Linked DNA regions of Homo sapiens. The protein of the gene in region 3 interacts with the protein of the main gene of each other region in a pairwise test. Each region holds a gene or a part of one and is shown on either strand. Other genes may lie near its edges.

Evidence for each region. Proteins that work in one complex are often made in the same cells at the same time.
Region 1: the proteins of ZNF16 (region 3) and ZXDC interact in a two-hybrid assay, tested with the Homo sapiens proteins (one study listed by IntAct).
Region 2: the proteins of ZNF16 (region 3) and FAIM interact in binary tests that used the Homo sapiens proteins (3 or more experiments, as listed by UniProt).

What each region holds. Positions count from the first base shown.
Region 1 is NC_000003.12:126,464,872-126,473,418, reverse strand, and holds part of ZXDC (zinc finger protein ZXDC), read left to right. Parts: intron 1-1,113; coding exon 1,114-1,266; intron 1,267-1,367; coding exon 1,368-1,446; intron 1,447-2,393; coding exon 2,394-2,524; intron 2,525-7,093; coding exon 7,094-7,264; intron 7,265-8,547. UniProt on the Homo sapiens protein: Cooperates with CIITA to promote transcription of MHC class I and MHC class II genes.
Region 2 is NC_000003.12:138,611,244-138,619,790, forward strand, and holds part of FAIM (fas apoptotic inhibitory molecule 1), read left to right. Parts: intron 1-8,467; coding exon of another isoform or gene 8,468-8,483; coding exon 8,484-8,527; intron 8,528-8,547. UniProt on the Homo sapiens protein: Plays a role as an inducible effector molecule that mediates Fas resistance produced by surface Ig engagement in B cells.
Region 3 is NC_000008.11:144,929,278-144,934,847, reverse strand, and holds the end of ZNF16 (zinc finger protein 16), read left to right. Parts: intron 1-2,257; coding exon 2,258-4,110; 3' UTR 4,111-4,490; downstream 4,491-5,570. UniProt on the Homo sapiens protein: Acts as a transcriptional activator. Promotes cell proliferation by facilitating the cell cycle phase transition from the S to G2/M phase.

The DNA of each region.
Region 1 (8,547 bases), on a different chromosome or scaffold from region 3:
TAGATGTTTAGAAGCAGGAGCAGGACCAGGGAAGCATCATCAAAGGGCCCAGACCTGAGTTTTCTGAAGGCCTGAGCCAGGGAGTGGGAATGATGAGGGTCTCTAGCAGGTGAGATTGCAGAGGGAGAACCAAAGGGTGTAATTATCTATGGGGGTGTGGGGGGTTCTTGCCAAGGCAGAGAGAGTCTGTGTTCAGATTTACATGACCAAGTGTGTGAACACACCGAAGCCCAAAATACCCTGGAGGTATTTTGGGACCAGATTGAGGCCAAAGATCAGCATTTCTGAGTTAGATGTTGCTGGGGAAAGTAGGGTTCCTTGGGCTGATACTTTTGGGCAGTGCTATGCCATGTACATCTGTGTGGCAGTTCATAGGCATGATAGTATCTCGTTAAAGGCTCCAAGAGGAGCTGCAGCAAAGACTCCTGTTAAACATCCTGCAGCCTCATGTTTTCCACCCTGTTGGAGCCCTGAATGTTTCTGTCGGAGGAGAAGTATTGCTGTGGAATTGTTGAGGCTTAGCTGCTTTGGCCAGGGGTTAGGATTGAGGTGAAGATTACAAAGCAGGGAACCTAAGGAAATTGCGAAAGGAAAAAGAATCCAAACAGCAAGGGACAGGGCTGGCAGTTGGAGGGTGTCAGGGAGGAAATTTGGATATGTAGAGGATGCAGCATCACCCCCAAGGGGTGAAAAATCCTGGCTAGTAGGATGATTTGTAGCCTTTCAAAGATCAACCCTACCAGACAAAATCTTGTTCCTTAGTATTTGATTTCTCTCATGGGGTTCTTGGGTCTCAGTGTGTGTGCAGGATCAGTGCTCCGGAGCCGGCCAGTAGATGGCTGTGAACGGAGGACTTTCTCTTTATCGGTTGCTCCATCTCCAAGTCATGTTGCAACAGGTGGCCAGCGTGTGCCTATTGGCTGCCATTAGCTGCCTTCCTGTGGTGATCACAAAGCCAAGCATTAATGGTCTTCCCTTTTTAGAGAGTGCTTCTGAGTCATGTTTTCCCTTGTCTGCTTCAGTGTGAACAGGGTCTGGTGGGTGTGACTAGCATTAGCTATGTTGTATAATTTTTGCCACGCTTTGAGCAGGGTTTGTGTTTTCCTTGTTCAGGCTGTGAGAAGACATTTATCACAGTGAGTGCCCTGTTTTCCCATAACCGAGCCCACTTCAGGGAACAAGAGCTCTTTTCCTGCTCCTTTCCTGGGTGCAGCAAGCAGTATGATAAAGCCTGTCGGCTGAAAATTCACCTGCGGAGCCATACAGGTAATGAGCTAGGGAACGCACAGCATTTGGACCCAAGATTTGTCTTCATCGTAGCTGTTGGAGTTGTAAATTTTATGCTGTATAATTTTTTCTTTTATAAGGTGAAAGACCATTTATTTGTGACTCTGACAGCTGTGGCTGGACCTTCACCAGCATGTCCAAACTTCTAAGGCACAGAAGGTAATCCTTACATTTTGGTTTGCATTATCAGGTTTGAAAATGAGTGGTTTGTCAGCAGCAGAAACCAATGAATGAAATATCTGTAGACATTTTTTAAGTTGTTAAAAAAGGAGCTCAGTGTTGATGATTTGGAAAATTCAGAAAACTGTAAAAAGAAAATTGCTCAGAATCTCATCACCTGAAGTCAGTTTTTTCTGTGTATACTTTTTTTAAAAAAAGCTAAATTGGCATACTCTGTTCTTAAAAAAAAAACAATTCCAGGTTTTTTTTTTAACTTAACATTGTAGAATAAGCTTTCTTCATGTAATTACAAGTTTTCATGGTGGTAATGACAACCCTGGAGACTGTGTCCAGGTGACACTCAGCACTTTACATGTGTGTCTTCTACCTTCCCAACAACCTCAAAGCTAATGTTCTTATTCTCCCTGTTTTACAGTGAGACTCGGAGAGATTCAGTGGTTTTTCTGTACTTGCACAGCTGGGCTCTGAGGATTTAATATAAAAATGTCACTTAGGAAAAGACACAGTCTTTACAAGTTGGCTTAAGAGAGTCCTTTTGGCATTGCAGCTGATGCTCTGTGCACATTTCTCACGACCGTCTGTCGCTCGGAAAGCTTGTTGATCATTGGGGTTTCTAAACAATAGAAACACCTTCATCAATACATTTGGGACTCCACTGTTCTTAGATTAGCTTATATTAGATTGAAGTAGCATTAATTGTTTGATGTGTGACTCTGGGGTCAGCTTAGTCATTAAAGTAGAATTTTTATGGGGTAGCTAAATTGCAAATCTGCTCACATGGATTAAAGACAGAATTAAGATTTTCCGAAATGTACTGATCATTTTTGTAAATGCAAAGTTTGTGTTTTGGTATGTTTTGTAGAATTTTAAAGAATTATGGTGAGTTGTGTGAGGAATCACAGCTCCTTTATTTTTCTGTCTGGCAGGAAACATGACGATGACCGGAGGTTTACCTGCCCTGTCGAGGGCTGTGGGAAATCATTCACCAGAGCAGAGCATCTGAAAGGCCACAGCATAACCCACCTAGGCACAAAGCCGTTCGAGTGTCCTGTGGAAGGTAGATTTTAAAACATTGCTTTGAGCAGTAAACTAAGTGCAATGCCAACATTTATCCTGTTAAGTTTCCGTTGTTTAAAGGTAAATGTTAGCTGCTTAAAGACTGACTCAATATAAGTTGCAGCATTATGTTTACTTACCTCATTGAGTTAATTGTACTATTTTGGGAGCAGTGACTTGAGAATCAGACGCAGTTTGACTCATGGCCCTGATCCTCATTAGATCTGTGGCTCTAGTTAAGTTACCTGTTTAATTTGGTGGTCGTGAGGATTAGGTGAAATGTGGAAAATGCCTGTTTATCCATCTGGCATGGAGCTCGGACTCAGTAAATGGTAGGTACTTTTGAGATCACGTTTGAATTGTCACTCCAATCATTTTGTAATTGGAGAGCAGTAAAGCTAGACTGACTTTTTCTTTTTTTGTTTAATTTTTGAGACAGTCTTGCTCTGTCACCCAGGCTGGATGCAATGGTGTGATCTTGGCTCATTGCAACCTCTGCCTCCCAGGTTTAAGTGATTCTTATGCCTCAGCCTTCTGAGTAGCTGGGACTACAGGCGTATGCCACCACGCTTGGCTGATTTTTATGCTTTTAGTAGAGACAGGGTTTCACCATGTTGGCCAGGATGGTCTCAAACTCCTGACGTCAAGTGATCCACCCACTTTGGCCTCCCAAAGTGCTGGGATTACAGGTGTGAGCCACCACGCCCAACCTGACTTTTTAAAAGGTATAGTAGAGTGGTTTTTTCCTTTAAAACACTGAAGGCTCAGTTCATTTGCCAGAAATTGGCTGCGTGACCTGTGCGTGACTTGTGCGTGCTGGCCCTACTCTAGTTCTGCAGGTGCACTGGGAGGCAGTGAGCCAGGACACGTCGGGTGGTCATGGATTCAAAGTCTGGCTCTACCGCTCCCTAAAGTGGTGGCCTCAGTCAAGCTGCTTCTCTGGGCCTTGGTTTCCTTACCTGGAAGAGAGAATAATAAAGACCCATTTAAAGCTGAGCCTAGCTCTTAGAACATAATGAACATATATACAAGTGGTGTAACTGAGAAACAGTTCCTCCTTCCGTCAGAGTTTCAGCTGGAGGTGCAGACAGGGGAACAGGTAACATGTAGGGTGCTGCAGGGGCGCAGAGAGTTTCCCCAGACCGGGGTGAGAACGGCCTCGCGGTCAGCTGAAGAAGAGGGGAGAGCACCAGACACGTGCGTGTGGGTGTTGGAGGCGGAGTGGCCTGGGAGAGCCTCTCAGGGCCAGGAGTGGCAGGCTTGAGTGCTTGGGTGAGCGTATGATGTCATCATGTTTGAGTTGTGGCTTAGCCTGGCTTCAGGATTGAAAGCAGCCAGGGGTGTGGGGAGGTGGGATGGCCTGGACGGGGGCCTTAACAGTGGGAAAAGAGAAAGGGGCATCAATAGCAGAGGTGGGAGTTAGAAGTCACAGTATATGGTGATGGATTTGGATTTTAGTTGATGTCAGTGTGTCAGCTGAGTGGATTTGGAGGAAGCAGAGTTTGGTTTGGACATGTTGTGTTTTTGGTACCCTTGTGCGTCTAATGCGCAGAGGGCAGGGGATGTGCCACTGGTGCTGGGGAGAGCAGGCCAGGCAGGGAGCGAAGCAGACAGCACCCGAATCATCATTTAAGCCACAAAAGTGGATGAAATTCTCAAAGAAGAGTATAAATGGAGGAGAGTCAGGGTAGTGTAGTTGATCAAAAGCCTGAATTCTGGAGTCAGACTGCCTGGATTCGAGTCCTAAGTTTGCCACGTAAGTAGGTCTGGGGCCTCGGACAAACACTTGAAGCTCTCTGTGCCTCTTCCTTATCTGTAAAGTGAATAAAACCTCCCAGGGTTGTTGAGAAGGCTGGATTGGTTACTAAGTTTAGCGCATATGGAAAACATCAGTATATATGTCAGTTACTGTCGTTGTTGTGATTGCTGTTAGATTTTCTTAAAAAGGACCTAGGACAGAGCCCTGGGGCTGCCCCAGATTCCGGTGGAGTGGCTGGGACGGGTACTGGCAGGACCAGCAACAGCACAGTGGGGGTGGTGCTGAGGTGAGTGGGGAATGTGTGGAAGTGGGGGTCACCTGGAGTGCTAGGGTGAGCCAGGACCAGGGAACACATGCCTCGGTGCCACCTGCGGGGTTGTCTTGGTGTGCTGATGGATGAGGTTCCGTGGGTCACTCAGGCAGAGTCCTGCTCTGGTGCCCTGAGAGGTGGCCTGAGTGGGAGATGGGGATGGTTTGTGCTGACACTTCTGCCAGAGGTGACTGGGGAAAGGGGAAAGGTGGGAGTTGGCCGTGGAGGATAGGGCATTTGTTTCTGTAGAGCTCTGTTTCTTCCAGCAAGTCTAGGTGTTGTGCTGGGAGAGAAACTGGGCACTCCCCACGTGGTGTATGGGCAGCACGTGGAGATGGAGTTGGAGCTGGTGGGAGGAGCCCAGAACCTCTTCTCAGCTGGACTGAGAGTTGATCATTCTTGGGGTTGGGCAATAGTTGGGGCTGATGACACCATTTTTTCCACTTTGGTAGGTGTTTGAACTGTTCTGTAATAAAAAGTAGAAGGCAAAACTACCTTTTTTTGTAGTAACAGGAGGAGGAGGAAAGGACAAGGCCACAGACCAGAAGTATGTCTGAGGGCAGGTGTTGGGTGGCCTCGTTGCGGCCTCGGGGCTATGTGTGCTGGGGCCTGTGTCTCGTGTTGCCGAGCCTTGTGCTTGCCTGGCCGTCCATGTGAGCGCCTCACTGTCCTCTGAATGCAGCTTTGCAGACAGGTCTGTCAGTGATGGCTGCTTCTGCCTCTCCCTGGTTGCAGCTTGGATTTGTAAAGAATGGAAACAGATCTCAATATACTGGCAGAATTTGGAAAAGCCAGCAGTTAGTACACTTGGAGAAATGATTACATTCCTGGTTGTCGCAGGAAATACAAACCAAAATGAAATATATTTTTTGCCTATGGAATTAGCAAGTACTTTAAAAAATGGAAACCCAGTGCTGGCAAGAGTGTGCAAGGGTCCTGTTGTAGCGTGGCCCTGCCATCAAGAAGGCATTTGACAGAAGATGTGCTCAGAGCCTCTGCTCTGTGACCTGTCTCTAGAAATCCGTGCTCAGGACCCCCAGCTGGGAAAGGGGGTTCCAGGGTACCCTGTGTACCATGGTGAGCAGGGCATGCAGAGGAAACTGCGCGCTTGCAGGGCAGTCCTGGGCCGTCGGACTGTCTCCTTTGTTTCCCAGATGGTTTTTGACGAGCCTGACCTGGAAACGAGTTTGCAGCTGTATTAGAAAATGAAAAATGTAGTTGAAAACTATATTCACAGGCATCCAAGGCCCTTACTCATCTGGCCGTATCCTATCTTCATAGCCTCTTTCCTTAAAATATCCCTCCTCCAGGCGCTGGGCTCTGGCAGTACCACCCCACCGTCTTAAGAAGGTGCCGCGAGTGCGTCGTTGCTCGCACCACTTGCTTAGGCCCGTGCAGAGGCTCTGTAGGCAGGTATGGCTTTATTGGGCCCTCAGCACCCCTGTGAGGTAGGTGTCACTCCCGTTTCACAGAACAGAAAAAGGAGACCCGCAAAAGATAAATAATTTGTCTAAGGCCACACTGCTGGTAAGAGGCTGAACTGGAACCCAGGCTGGGGTGCCTGCACTGCTGCCCTTCATGCCCCCATGCCTTGGCTGGGCAGCTCCTGCGGCAGGAGCACCATCTGCTCTGCTGCAGGGTGGCCCAGTCACCTCGAGGGCTGCATACTCCTGAGACCGCTTTTCTGCCTTCTCGGGAGGTGTGTGGTTTCCTCTGCTGCTTGCATGTTTCAGTGTTGGCACTGACTTCCTTCTGCCCTTTGTTGCAGCAACTGGCTGTTCTATTTGCCCCTACCAGGTCATAGGCCTCTGACCGCCAAGAGCTCCACGTCTCCTTCCTGTGTCCATATGGGGCAGAGCTCCAGCGTAGTAGAAAGCCAGGGCACGGAGGGGAGGTGATTGTAACTTTGAATGTGTCTTGTTTTTCCTCTGATGCCTGTGTGCAGATCAGAGACATAAGTGGACTGGGAGTGTAAGCAAGGAGTTGCCAGCTCTGGGCTCCAGGACACCTGCTCAGTCTCCCTGGGCATCCATTGTCTCAGTGGGAAAGTGAAAGGACTGGCTTTGGTGATCTGTCAAGATAGTTTCCAGCTCTAAATGTCATCCTAGGATTACATTTTTTATGATAATAGCTTAATCGAGATGACTAGAATAAATTGTTTTCAACTGAATATTTAAGCAGTTAATACTTAATTTGACTTAATCTTCCCAACATCTCCATGTAGTGGGTGAAGAAACAGGCACAGAGGTTGCTTAGGCATAGCTGAGGTAGGACTTCAAATCTCCCTACGGGTTTCACTGTATCTCTTGCTTTTTAAAAACAGTTTGCTTTTGACTTGAATTGCTTGTGATGCTACTTCTAGAGATATTTGGTCTCTGTCCTTGCCAGTAGCCAGGGTGCAAAATGCAGGTCTGGTGGTTCTGATCTGATGGGGAAGTGTCACTTGTTCCTGGTTCCTTGGTGATCCTTGGGTTTCACTCTCATTACTCTTTTTGTTCCAGGATGTTGCGCGAGGTTCTCCGCTCGTAGCAGTCTGTACATTCACTCTAAGAAACACGTGCAGGATGTGGGTGCTCCGAAAAGCCGTTGCCCAGTTTCTACCTGCAACAGACTCTTCACCTCCAAGCACAGCATGAAGGCGCACATGGTCAGACAGCACAGCCGGCGCCAAGGTCTGCACTTTCCACGGCCCCCATGGGGAGCTGCTTCCCTGTGAGAAACGGGAACAGTGCCAGTGCCGTCTGTTCCTTCTTCACCTCTTGGAAGGCGTCAGGCAGTGGGGTTGTGGGCGTGGCTGCCAAGCCAAGTGGCCTCTTTTGCACTCTCTGCCACTTTCTTGCCTTTGACCCTCTAATCCCTCCCATGTCTTTTGTTTTTTGAGACAGGGTCCCTCTCTGTCACCCTGACTGGAGTGCAGTGGTGTGATCATGGCTCACTGCAACCTCAGGCTCCTGCTCAAGTGATCCTCCCACCCCAGTCTCCAGAGTAGCTGAGCCCACAGGCATCCACCACCATGCCCAGCTAATTTTTGCATTTTTTATAGAGACAGGGTTTCACTATGTTGCTCAGGCTGGTTTTGAACTGCTGGCCTTAAGCAGTCTGCCCACCTCAGCCTCCCAAAGTGCTGGGATTACAGGCATGAGCCACCATGCCCTGCCCCTCCCATGTCTTTGAAATGCTTTCCTGGAAGAATGTTTCACTTTGTTGACTTTCCCTAGCATATGTCCCCTAAGCCTGTGTCTCTCACTGGGACTTTTGTCCTGAATTCTGAACCTGCCCCTCCTGTGTTTCCGTCTGCCTCAGCTATTCTATCTCCAAGTAACAAAGGCTAGAGCAGAGTTGTGTTTCAGGAGTGGACTGGGAGTAACGAGGGCTGGAGAGGGCAGGGTTAGAGAGGAAAGTGACGGTGGCCTGGTGACCTGTGAGGGGAATGCTGAGTGTGTGAGTGCCTAGTCATTGGGCAGCTTTGCAGCATGGGACTAGGAAACCTACCCCACTAGGCCTTCTCCACAGTCCAGGATACAGAAGTGCCTGGCAGCTGTGGTGGCGGCCCCTCTGGGGAGCACACCCATGTGCCCTATTCTCTGGGCCCTGGTGCGGTTGTCGCTCCTCACCGGGCCTGGCTGATGGCATCCTAGCTGGCCCTAGAGTTACTTCTGCTGCTCAGTCCGTGGAGGCTGTGTGTGTCACCAACTGGGTCCTCACGTCTCCTGTGTGACCAGCAGCACCACAGCAGAGCACCGGCTTTGGGGCGCAGCTGTGTCACAGCTGCCGCGTTGGCAAGGGACAGGCCTCCATGCCTCGCACAGAGTTTGGTGAGGGGTTGGGCTCAGGGCAGTTCTGTGGCCTTTGCTTTCTTGTGATCCTATTTAGAAGTGGTCATGAAGCCCCTCCTTGGGATCTTGGACACTGATCTTTCACAGTTTACAGCAGTTGCCGTTCAGCTTTATATTTA
Region 2 (8,547 bases), on a different chromosome or scaffold from region 3:
TACAGCCAGGACACCTGCATTTTTTTTTCTTTTTTTGTTTTTTTTTTTAACAACGTTACTGAAATATAACTCACATACCATAAAATTCACCCATTTAAAGTATACAATTCTTTCTAATATAATTAACTTTTTGAAGTGGTAAAATATATACAACATAGATTTGCCATTTTAACAATTTTTTAGTGTACAATTCAGGGGCATTAAGTACATTCACAATAGTGTGCGATCATTGTCACTATCTATTTGCCAAACTTTTCAATACCTTAAACAGAAACACAGTAACCATTAAGCAATAACTCTGTGCTATGGTTTGGATATTTGTACTTACCAAATCTCATGTTGAAATTTGATCCCCAGTGTGGCAGTATTGGGAAGTGGGGCCTAATGGGAGGTGTTTGGGTCATGGGGGCTGATCCCCAGTGAATACATTAATGCCCTCCCTTGGAGGTGAATGGGTTTTTGCTCTATCAGTTCTCACTAGAGCTGTTTGATAAAAAGAGCTTGTACCTCCCCGCTGTCTCTCCTGCTTTCTCTCTGGTCACATGCTCTCTACACAGCCAGCTCTCCTTTGCCTTCTGCCATGAGTAGAAGCAACTTGAGGCCCTCACCAAATGCAGATGCCCAATCTTGAGCTTCTCCAGACATCAGAATCATGAGCTAAATAAACCTTTTTTCTTTATAAATTATGCAACCTCGGGTATTCCTTTGTAGCAGCATGAAAGAGACTGAGACTTCTCATTGTTCCCTTCCCCCATTCCCAGGGAACATCTAATCTGCTTTCTGCCTCTACGAATGTCCCTTTTCTGGGTATTTTATATAAGTGGAATCATATTTGTCATTTTTTGTCTGGCTATTTTTTTTTTTTTTTTTTTTTTGAGACGGAGTCTCGCTCTGTCACCCAGGCTGGAGTGCAGTGGTGCGATCTCAGCTCACTGCAAGCTCCGCCTCCCGGGTTCACGCCATTCTCCTGCCTCGGCCTCTTGAGTAGCTGGGACTACAGGCGCCCGCCACCACGCCTGGCTAATTTTTTTGTAGTTTTAGTAGAGACGGGGTTTCACCGTGTTAGCCAGGATGGTCTCGAACTCCTGACCTCGTGATCCGCCCGCCTCGGCCTCCCAAAGTGCTGGGATTACAGGCGTGAGTCACCGCGCCCGGCCTTGTCTGGCTATTTCACTTAGCATAAAGTTTTCATAGTTCATCCATGTTATAGCATATGTCAGAATATCACTCCTTATTTTGGCTGAATGAAAAGGAATATCCTTTGTATATATATGCATTTTATCACTTCTCAGCCTTTTGGCCGAGATCAAGTGTATGTACCGCGTTTTGTTTATTCTTATGTTGATGGACAACTTGGGTTGTTTTCATCTTTTGGCTATTGGAAAATGCTACAATGAACAATAGTATACAGGTGTCTGAGTGGCTGATTTCAAAACTTTTTGAGTGCATTCCTAGCAGCAGAATTGCTAGGTCATATAGTAATTCTCTGTTTAGGTTTTGAGGAACTGTCATATCATTTTGTATGACAACTTCACCATTTTACAGTCCCACTAGCAATGTACAAGGATTCCAGTTTTTCCACATCCTTGCCAACACTGATTATTTTCTGTTTATTTTTAGTATAGCCATCCTAGTAGATGTGAAGTTGTATTTCATTGTTGTTTTGATTTGCATTTCTGTCGTGATTAATGTTGTTTAGCATCTTTTCATGTGCTTATTGACCATTTGTATGTCTTCTTTAGAATAATGTCTGTGGAAGTCCTTTGCCTTTTTTTTTTTTTTTTCCTGGAAACAGGCTTTTGCTCTTGTTGCCCAGGCTGGAGTGCAATGGCATGATCTTGGTTTACTGCAGCCTCCGCCTCCTGGGTTCAAGCGATTCTCCTGCCTCAGCCTCCCGAGTAGCTAGCTGGGATTACAGGTGCCTGCCACCACACTCGGCTAATTTTTTGTATTTTTAGTAGAAATGGGGTTTCACCATGTTGGCCAGGCTGGTCTCGGACTCCTGACCTCAGGTGATCCACCCGCCTCAGCCTCCCAAATTGCTGGGATTACAGGTGTGAGCCACTGCGCCCGGCCCCTTTCCCATTTTTAAATTGGGTTGTCTTTTGTGTTTATGAGCAGTAGAGTTCTTTATATATTCAGAATATGAAACCTCTATCAGATATATGATTTCCAAATATTTTCTCTCATCCTTGTCCTTTCACTTTCTAGATAATGTCCTTTGATGCACAAAAATTTTAGTTTGTTTTTGTTTTTTTGAGACAGGGTCTATTCTGTTGCCAAGGGTGGAGTGCAGTGGTGCAATCACAGCTCACCTGCAGCCTTGACCTCTCAGGCTTAAGTGATCCTCCCACTTCAGCCTCCCATGTAGCTGGGACTACAGGCATGCACCACCATGCCTGGCTAGTTTTTAAATTTTTTTGTAGAGATGGGGTCTCCCTATGTTGCCCAGGCTGGTCTTGAACTCCTGGGCTCAAGCAATCCTCCCACCTTGGCCTCCCAAATTGCTGGGAATGCGGGTGTGAGCCACCACACCCAGTCAGTTTTAACTTTTGATGAAGTTCAATTTATCTATTTTTTTCTTTTGCTGCTATCCTTTTGGTGTCCTATCTAAGAATCCATTGCCAAATCCAAGATCATGAGGATTTACCTCTATGTTTTCTTCTAAGAGTTTTGTGGTTTTAGCTCTTACATTTAGATCATTGAGATAACTTTTGTATATGGTGTGAGATAGGTGAGGTTCAACTTAATTCTCTTGTGTATGAAAATCTAGTTTTCCCCATAACATCTGTTGAAGAGACTATTCTTTCCCCACCAGTTAGAGTTGGCACCCTTGTCAAAAATCATTTGGCCACAGATATGTGGATTTATTTCTGAACTCTCAAATTCTTTAAGGACAGAAACATTTTCTTCAGGCTGGGCATGGTGGCTTATGCCTGTAATCCCAGCACTTTGGGTGGCCGAGGTGGGAGGATCACTTGAGTTCAGGAGTTTGAGACCAGCTGGGGCAACATGGTGAAACCTCATCTTCACAAAAAATTACAAAATTAGCTGGGTGTTGTGGCACATGCCTATGGTCCCAGCTACTAAGGAGGCTGAGGTGGGAGGATTGTTTGAGCCCAGGAGGTCGAGGCTGCAGTGAATTGAGATCGCACCACTGCACTCCAGCCTGGATGACTAGAGTGAGACCCTATCTCAAAAAACAAAAAAAAAGAAGGATTTTCTTCAAATTTCTGACAGCGTCTAGTACAGTATCTCTTGATAGCAGGTTCAAATGTTGAATGGAAAAACTGAAGCCTGGACATTTATCATAAGAAAACTTTTGTTGTGAAGGTACATCTCCCCTTGAGAAAACAAATAGAGCATAGCTGCTGCAAATCATACAAAACCATAGAAAAATTTAAAAGACATGTACGACCAGGTGCGGTGACTCATGCCTGTAATCTCAGCACCTTGGGAGGCCAAGTCAGGTGGATTACTTGAGCCCACAAATTCAAGACCAGCCTAGGTAACATGGTGAAACCTCATATCTACCATAAATACAAAAATGAGCCGGGTGTGGTGGTGTGTACCTGTAGTCCCAGCTACTTTGGAGGCTAAGGTGGGAGGATCCTTTGGGCCCAGGAGGTTGAGGCTGCAGTGAGCATTGAATATACCATTGCACTCCAGCCTGGGCAGCAGAACAAGACCCTGTCTCAAAACAAAAACAAAAACATGTACAGATGCTTCTTGACTTGTGATGGGGTTATATCCCAATAAACCCATTGCAAGTTGAAAATATTATAAGTTGAAAATGGATTTAGTACACCTAACCTATCAAACATCATGTCTTAGCCTTGCCTACCTTAAGTGTCCTCAGAATACTTACCTTAGCCCACATTTGGGCAAAATCATCTAACACAAAGCCTATGTTACAATGAAGTCTTGGCTGTCTCCTGTAATTTTTTGTACTGTAGTGAAAGTGAATGGTTGTATGGGTACTCAAAGTATGGTTCCTACCAAACACGTATCTCTTTTGCACCATCTTAAAGTCGGAAAATCATTAAGTCAAACCATTATAAGCCGGGGACCATCTGTATTTGACTTTGGAGTGCTTTCAGAACATTTGGTGGGCATTTAACTATTTGTTGAGTTAATGGATTACATTTGCTCATTCTGATATTACTTTGTATAGACCATCCAGAGAATCACCAGTTACGAAGAAGTAAGTTGACTTTTGTGTGAGGATATTCTCAAAATGAAAAATCAGCTGATGGGCCAAAGTATCTTAAAGTCTGTTTTAAGTAAACATTGATCTCTGTGCTTTAGTGCCTTTTAGAATAATTATTCATGTTTACTTCCTTTCAGACCTCTAACCTAAATCTCTATTTTATTTCATGTTTCCCTAAAGACTCACTAGTGGGCATATTTTTACGTGCATTTGATGAGTTGACTAGTGGTTTTTAATGATTTTCCCTGATATGAATGGCCAAAAAACAGATGTCAGTCTGTTAACCTGTTGCATTTGTGGCTATTAAGAGTGTTTTCTATGTGTGCTCTCCTGCTTTTGAGCCAGAAGAGCAATTTCAATTAAATTTTAAAGTGGTGAAATTGGAATGGAATGTGTAAACTGACAGAGGTCATAAGACTAGTGAAACTGCTGGGATAGGTGATAGAGAAGCCCAAAAGCAGGAGGCAGAGTTGATTTTGGACATTTTTCTTAAACATTAGATGGGATTTGTTGATGGGAATTATTGTTTGTGGTAAGATCATTTGAAAAGTTTTCTTTGCTCTGTGTGCATTATTGGCACCCTCTACAGCTTTGTTAGAAAGTTGGATAGGTAATAAGAACCCAGGACTGGCAGTGGAGATGGCACTTGGAGGGATATGTGTTACTGATTTCCCCGTAATGAAGGAGAGAGGCTAGACCAGGTGATTTTATTGTTTTTTGTTTTCCAGTGCTGAAAATTGTATGACTCTCTCATATTTTGGTTAAGGCTGTTGTTATAAGATACTGGTCACTTTAATCCTTGCATAGAAAGCAGTTTTTAAAGTTAATCTCTGCCTTTTAAAATGGTACAAAATTTGAAGTATTTCAGCCTTTTATAAGCTGAATATACTTTTAATGTTCCAAAGAATAATTTCGTTTGTTTTGTTGTTGTTGTTTTTTGCTTTTGGAACAGGGTCTTGCTCTGTTGGCCAGGTTAGAGTGCAGTGGCATGGTCATGGCTCACTGCAGTCTCAAACCCCTAGAATCGAGCGATCCTCCCTCCTCCCATGTAGCTGGGACTATAGGCACGTGCCACCACACCCAGCTAATTTTTTTTGGTGTTACTCTGTTGACCAGGCTGGTCTCGAGTTCCTGGCTTCAAATGATTCTCCTGTCTCAGCCTCTCAAAGTGCGGGGATTACAGGGATGAGCCACCATGCACACTCCAAGGAGTAATTATAACAGTATTTTATAATTATTAACCATTTATAAAAAGATTTTTTTAGTGTTTTGCTTAAAATAATGGATAGCATGAACAAGAAAATTGAAATATTACTTTGTATTAAAACAACATTTTATTTAATCAGAGAAAAACTGGCAAAGAGAGTAACAAATTTTATATTGATTTGTTACTTGGTTTAAGAAGAAACATCAATTTTGATATATAGTTATATAAGTAGAATTAGAATGCTTCAAATTTGCCAGATAATTGCTTCAGTACTTACTCTTATCTTTGTTTATAATCCTCTCCTGTCATGTACACTTTTAATTATTGGAGAATTAAAAATTGCTATTTTTTAAGTAGTCCTTAAATAATTGTTGAATGCCTGAATGATTGTTCATAGTTTAGAGAAGAAAAAATGTTTTAATGTGATCATGATTTCTAATCTTTCTTATAATTGGTGGTATTGCCTTTTATACTTCTCCATGAAAAGGTATTATAATTAAGATGTTGTATCTTAGTGTGATTTAGTAGTATTTGGAATTCCTTATAATAGAAAACAGAGCAATTGTTTTAGGTTTGAATACCTACATTACTGAACTTTCTAGAGTCTCTGAAAATTGAAGAGCAAAACTTGAATAGCACCCCTAAATACATTCTGATTTACAAAGGATGCCTTATCAAAGTTTATATTATGCTGTTTGGCTTATTTTTTATATTATATGTATGTATAATATGTATATATTATATATAATATGTATATATAATAAATATAATATGTATATAAATATATATATAGTATTTATATGTACTCCAGACTGGGCAACAGAGTGAGACCCTGTCTCAAAACAGATATGTATATCTATATATATCTCTCTCTATCTACCTATCTACCTATCTGTCTATCTATATCTGTCACCCAGGCTGGAGTACATGTAATTATACTATCTTATACTATCTGTCTATCTATAATAGATCTATATATCATATCTATATATATAATATATATATATATGTTTTGAGACAGGGTCTCACTCTGTCACCCAGGCTGGAGTACATATAATTACATTGTGTATATACGTGTGTGTGTATATATATATGTATGTATATAGTATCTACTATATATAATATATAATATATATTATTATTTTGGACATAGATACTATTTATATATAGTATATATCTATATATTATCTATCTATATTATCTAATTAGATATCTAATTAGATCATATAGATATAGATACTATATATACTATATTATATATAGTATATTTAGTATATATAGTGTATATAGTAACTATATATTATATATAGTATATATATAGATACCTGTTTTGAGACAGGGTCTCACTCTGTCATCCAGGCTGGAGTGCGGTGGCATGATCACTGCAGCCACTCACTGCAGCTTCTAACTCCTAGGCTCAAGCGATCCTCCCACCTTAGCCTCCCCCAGTAGCTGGGACTACAGGTGCATGCCACCATGCCTGGCTGGCTTATTATATTGCTATGTATTCTTTTTGTTTTTATTGTTGTAGGATACCCTCTGGTTTCATAGGGGATAATCCTTAAGAGTAGAAAAGTTCACAAATTTGTGTGGTGCTAATTTTATAAAAGAGAGATTTATTTTAGGTACAAATATTTATCTAGTTTTTATTCTAAAATCCTTGGCTTTTCTGGCCCGTTGGATTGCTTTTATGAGTGCTAATTTCTTCTTTAATATCTTTTTGGCTGGGTATGTGGTGGCTCATGCCTGTAATCCCAGCACTTTGGGAGGCCGAGGCAGGTGGATCACTTGAGACCAGGAGTTCGAGACCAGCCTGACCAACATGGCAAAACCCCATCTCTACTAAAAATACAAAAAATTAGCCGGATGTGGTGGCATGCAGTTGTAGTCCCAGCTACTCAAGAGGCTGAGACATGAGAATTGCCTGAACCCAGGAGGCAGAAGTTGCAGTGAGCCAAGATCATGCCACTGCACTCCAGCTTGGGGGACAGAGTGAGGCTTTGTCTCAAAAACAAACAAAAAACTTTTTAATAATTTGTGACTTCTGGCTGTTTCCAGACAGAAAGGGTTAGCAGTCTCCCATTTTTAACCAGGAGAGAGCATTCTTGAGCATCTGTAGGAAACAGGCACTAATTAAGGAAAGGGCTAAACTAGGATAGATCTTGGAAGCAAAAAATAGTTGAATTTAGGATACTTTGGCAGGAGTGAAACTGTTAATCCCAAATCTTCAAATGTGAGGGTTTCCTATGCATGTGAATTTATGTGCACTTCTGATTTTAGTACAGCTTAATTAACACTGCAGCCCAGTTACTGTTTAGTTCATTGCATAGTACAGTACTGGGCTCTAGTTCTGGGTTGGATCCTGCCAGTTACATGAGCAAGGCACATAACTTTTGTGGATTCATCATTGGCACTAGTAAATTAAATGGGCTTAAGTAAGGGGATAAATTAAGTTCACTCTTTGAGAGCAGACCAGCATATCCCTGTCTGCTTCTTGCAAACTCATTAGTTCTTTGAAGTTATCTAAACAGATTTTGAAAGTTATGTTCCACCATAGTGTAGCCTTCTAAAATAAAGATTACATTTTAAATTAGTTGCCACTTTAACATTGATGCTCCCAGAAGATACATTGTGTTTATCCTGGAGTTTGATGTATTCCCTGACTCATAGCCTTGGGGCTTCTTACGCTTCAACTTGAAAAGCATAGGACCCAGAGGATCTCTTAGGTCTCTTGCAGCTCTGATATGCTATAACACTTGCAACAAAGGAGAGTTTGTTCTTTAGTTTTGATAAAGTATACCTTTAAGAAATTATAAATCCATAACAGGGAAAAATATGACTGACTGATTTGCATGATGTAACATCTTTCTCTGAGAATTAAAGATTGCAATTCTATTTTATGTAGAAGCTGTTTCATCTGAAACTCCATGTAATTTAATAAATGGATTGCAAAATTAGAAAAACCCTTTGTAGATGTCATCATTGTTGCTTTCAATCTTTCTTTGCTGCAATTCTGCTTTTTTCTTTCCTGGCTGCTAATTGGATTAAAGACTGTTTTTGCCAACCATGGCATCTGGAGATGACAGTCCTATCTTTGAAGATGATGAAAGGTAAATGTCTTATATTGCAG
Region 3 (5,570 bases):
ACAAAGAAGACCATATGACAGAGATCATACAGCCGTAATGTATGTATGATCCTCCTCTCTGACCCTTCACAGAAGTACCTTCCTGACTCCTGTCTGTGTTGTTGCCAGAGCCTTCTTCATCCTTCCTTGGGTCACTTCTCCACACAGCCAGAAGAGGGCAACGGTCTCCCAAGTCAGGGTCTTGGCAGGGGTGGAGGATGGGGGACAGCGAGTCCCAGGACATCTCTGTCAGGGCTGAAGACTTCTGTTCAGACCTCACCTGTCCCAGCAGCCCCCATTCCTCATTGCTCCTGGGAGCCCAGCAGCATGTAGATGCCACATTTCCCAGACACCCTCTGGAGCCAGGGCTGGGGCTTCTGACATGGAGAGCTGAAGCTCATGGGGGACATTGGGGAATCCCCTGCAGCCCATGTGGAGTGTATAACAGCAGGCCTGCCAAAGGGCAGCAGGGTGGTAAAGAAAGGCACCCACATCTGTGTGCTGGCACGTAGGGCAGCTCTGTGGGAGAGGAGAGGCCTGATCCCAGACTCCAGGAAGTAGGGAGCTGCAAGAGGGTGTTCTGGCTGAAAGTGGCACAGCACGATGTGTCTGCACCACAGGTGTCCAGTGACCCAACATGAAGTGTCACCAAGAGACACGTGGGTGCAGTGGGTAGAGGGGCAAGTCCCAGGAGGGTCATGGTGAGAGCTGGGCCGGTTTGGATCTTTGTTGACACCACAGCTCCTTGGGAACAGACAATTCCAGACTGGAGGTGGAAATGGAATGCTGTTATGGCAGATTCTGGAAGTCCCAGACAGGGAGAGGCAGGGAGGGAGCAGAGTGGACGCCGCAAGGTGGGAGGGGCATTGGAGGGGCATCCTTCACACCCACTCAGCACTACCGACTACAGCTAGACCAGAGGTCTTCCACTTTGGGGGATGCAGTCCTGTTTCAGGGAGTGATCCAGGCTGTGGGTGACAGCCAGGGTGGGGGCAAGGAAAGTAGGTGGGGTGCTGGCATTTATGATCAGGGAAGGGCTCTCCAGCAAGGCCTGTGCAAGGGAAGTGGGTAGCACGAGGGCCATGTGGAGAGTGCTCTGGGCAAGGCAGACCCAAAGGTGGACACATCTGCCCTGCTCAGAGTATAGCAGGAGCAGAGGTAGAGGTGGGGTCTAGGAGGGCCAGGAGGCACTGAGAGGATGTTTGAGTGCATGACAGTGCTGGGTCTGATGTCACCAGGCTGTGGGCAGGAGGGGAGGTTGGGGGCCAGGGAAGCTGCTCAGCATCCAGGTGGCAGTGTGGCCTGGGATGTCAGTTTGAATGAGAGACTCGTGACATCTTCATTTGAGTAAGGGACACAGGGACATGAGGGTTTCTTTGTTCTGCAGGTGTGAAAAGGGGAGAGGGAGATGCTGAAGCCTTTTCTGGCAGACACGGAGCTTTGTGTGCATTTCTGTCTGCGGAAAGATGACGCACATTGTTACGAGGCCAGAAGTCATCCGCAAACACCAGTCAGAATTGTGGGTTTTCAGAGGTACAGGTGGCTTTGACAGGACACAGCAGTCTCTAAAGGGTCCTCTGTTGAACAGGATGGAATCTGATGTTCCACACAGGTCCCTGCCGCACAGGAGTGGTTGAATGATGCCTCCATGCAACTCAACTTGCCAGGCCCTGAGAGCCAGCTGGGTTTCTTCTCTGTGTACAACGGGGTCTCTCTCCACACTAGTGACTCCTAAGACCAAGCTCAGTGCCATTAGCATGCACTGACAGAACTGGAGATAGGCTGGTAAGGCTCACACCTGGCAGTGTGGACAGAAAAAAGGGTGAAATATGTAACAGTGTAAGGAGTGGTGTGAGACGTTTTTCTGGTACAGGTGGGAGAAGTGAGAAGCACCTGGATTTGGGCTGCACTCTGAGGTAGAGCTGACAGGACTTGCCAGTGGTTTGGTGTGGGTGTCGAGGAAGAGGGGAGTCAAGGGACAGCCAGGATTTTGGCCTGAGCCAGAAGGTAGACCGCAGTAACGTTTGCTGAGATGTGGAGTCCCAGGGAGGGTGGGTCCGTGGTCATCAAGAGCTCTCACTCATCTGCAGCCCCATGCAGCCTAATCACCCAGTGCTCCTCCCACCCCTCCCTGATGCCCTCTGATCTGGACTGCCACCCCAGAGGATCCCCTGCTCCCCTTGCCTCCTCCACAGTTAGTGGGTGCAACTGTGACTGTCTATGTTCCTGCTCCTGCTGCAGCACTGCCTTCCAAGTGATATTCTATTTATTGTTTCAGATTGTGACACCAGGACTGAAGACAAGGAGTTTCTTCACAAGGAAGACATTCATGAAGATTTGGAATCACAGGCAGAAATATCAGAAAACTATGCTGGTGATGTTTCCCAGGTACCCGAGCTTGGAGATCTGTGTGATGATGTATCAGAAAGAGACTGGGGAGTCCCCGAAGGCAGGAGGCTGCCACAGTCCCTCTCCCAGGAGGGGGACTTCACACCAGCTGCCATGGGGCTCCTTAGGGGCCCCTTAGGGGAGAAAGATCTGGACTGTAATGGTTTTGACAGTCGCTTCAGTCTGAGCCCAAACCTGATGGCATGTCAGGAAATCCCTACAGAAGAGAGGCCACATCCATATGACATGGGTGGCCAGAGTTTCCAGCACAGTGTGGACCTAACTGGTCATGAGGGGGTTCCCACAGCTGAAAGTCCACTCATATGTAATGAGTGTGGGAAAACCTTCCAAGGAAATCCTGACCTTATTCAGCGTCAAATAGTCCACACTGGGGAGGCTTCCTTTATGTGTGATGATTGTGGGAAAACCTTCAGCCAGAACTCAGTTCTTAAAAACCGTCATCGATCTCATATGAGTGAGAAAGCTTACCAGTGCAGCGAATGTGGGAAAGCCTTCCGAGGGCACTCAGACTTTTCTAGGCATCAGAGTCACCACAGCAGTGAGAGGCCTTATATGTGTAATGAATGTGGAAAAGCCTTCAGCCAGAACTCGAGCCTTAAAAAGCACCAAAAGTCTCACATGAGTGAGAAGCCCTATGAATGCAATGAATGTGGGAAGGCTTTTAGGCGGAGCTCAAACCTCATCCAACATCAAAGAATCCATTCTGGGGAGAAACCGTATGTGTGCAGTGAGTGTGGGAAGGCCTTCAGGCGAAGCTCAAACCTCATCAAACACCACAGGACTCACACAGGAGAGAAGCCTTTTGAGTGTGGCGAGTGTGGGAAAGCCTTCAGCCAGAGTGCACACCTGAGGAAGCACCAGAGGGTCCACACTGGAGAGAAGCCTTATGAGTGTAATGATTGTGGCAAGCCCTTCAGTCGGGTCTCCAACCTCATTAAGCACCACAGGGTTCACACTGGAGAGAAGCCCTATAAGTGCAGTGACTGTGGGAAAGCATTTAGTCAGAGCTCCAGCCTTATTCAGCATCGGAGAATTCACACTGGAGAAAAGCCTCACGTGTGTAATGTATGTGGAAAAGCCTTTAGTTATAGCTCAGTGCTCCGAAAGCACCAGATCATCCACACGGGAGAGAAGCCGTACAGATGCAGTGTCTGTGGGAAGGCCTTCAGCCACAGCTCAGCCCTCATTCAGCACCAGGGCGTGCACACAGGCGACAAGCCCTACGCCTGCCACGAGTGTGGGAAGACCTTTGGTCGCAGCTCCAACCTCATCCTTCACCAGCGAGTCCACACTGGAGAGAAGCCCTATGAATGTACTGAATGTGGAAAAACCTTCAGCCAGAGCTCAACCCTCATTCAGCATCAGAGGATTCATAATGGGCTGAAGCCCCATGAATGTAACCAGTGTGGTAAAGCCTTCAACCGAAGCTCAAATCTCATTCACCACCAGAAAGTTCATACTGGGGAAAAACCCTACACCTGTGTTGAATGTGGTAAGGGCTTCAGCCAGAGCTCACACCTCATTCAGCATCAGATAATCCACACGGGCGAGCGCCCCTACAAATGCAGTGAGTGTGGGAAAGCCTTCAGTCAGCGTTCGGTCCTCATCCAGCACCAGAGGATTCACACTGGGGTGAAGCCCTATGACTGTGCTGCTTGTGGGAAAGCCTTCAGCCAGCGATCAAAGTTGATCAAACACCAGTTGATTCACACCAGGGAATAGGCTGTTGGGCTGGCAGGAGTGAAACCGAGCATAGTTTCCTCTCCAACTCCTCTTTGGCCATTGTCTCAGCCTCTGCCACTTCCCAGACCGAAAGCCTGGACTCAGCTCACTGCCTACATCCAGTGGCCACATAGCCTGGGACCCTCCTTTGAAACATCCTTTACAGGCTCCCTTCTCACTGCCACTGCTCTTGCCTCTTGTGATGTCTTGGGTTTGGGCTTGTTTTTACAGCTTGTGAACGGACTGCACGTTTGTTACAAGGGAGAAGATTATGGAGGCTGCATATTCATGAATAGAGTTTATTATTATAATGAAAAGTTACCAAAAAAGTAAAGTGACGTTTGGTTTGAGATAACCATAGTAGTTTGTTTGATTGGTAATGAGTTGTGTGGCGTGAATTCTTTGTCACTGGCTGTAATTGATATTTTAGGTAAGTCGAGAGTTTTTCAGGTCCAGTTGCTCTGTCATCTTCCCCAGAAGTGGTACCTACTCATCACCACCAATTCCCTGCCCTTCTTTGTCCCTCCTGTTCCAGAATTTGAACCCAAGGCTCCCCCGCCACCCTACTTTTCTTTATACAGATCTGCAATCTGAGGTCAGCTTTCTCCTCTCACTGGTCTGCTGTGACTTAGGCCCCCATATCCTGTTCTGGGCTGCTGCACAGTTCCACATGGCTGTTCCAGCTTCTAGTTTCTGGGCCACAGAGGAAGCTCTCTCCATGGACCTCATTTTCATGCCCATGAGCTTCCAGGCTGTTTTTTCCACCTAGTAAGTGCCCTGCCTTGAGGGCCTAGCTCACTTACCCCCATCCTTAGTTCTCAGAGCTGTGCTCCTGTTCCCTGAGCAAGGAGAAAGCCCAGATGCTGAGAGGCCCCTCCCTGCTGGCCAGCAGGTCTGGGGGTGTCAGGACACAGTTTCATGGAAAACCTAGCCCTGACCTGTTTTAGATAAAAGTTTTGTTGGAACACAGCTATGCCCATTTGTTTACAGATAGCTGTGGCAGCTTTTGTACCACAGAATTGAGCAGTTGTGATAGATCCCATATGGTGCACAAAGCCAAAGTATTTACTTCTGGTCCTTGATAGGAAAGTTTGCTGACCCTGCCTTAGGATGCTCCCTGTGACCTAAGTTGCCTCTTGGGACTCAAGAGTTCTTGCAGGAGTTAAAGTGTGTTTTGTGACCAAGGGACTATTCTGTACTGTGGAGTGGTTGGCTGTGTGCAGGTGGGTGATTGCTGCAGAGTTCCCACAGCCACAGAGCATCCATCCTCTTTACCACTCCCCAACACACAGTACGCCCTCTGGAGAGATGCAAGACCTAAGTGTTGACTGAGTTCTTACTGCAGTTAAGAGTTTTGTGAAGATTGAATAAAATGGTATGTGTAAGTGTTTTATTTTATTTTTTTGAGACGGAGTTTCGCTATGTCACCCAGGCTGGAGTGCAATGGCGCGATCTCAGCT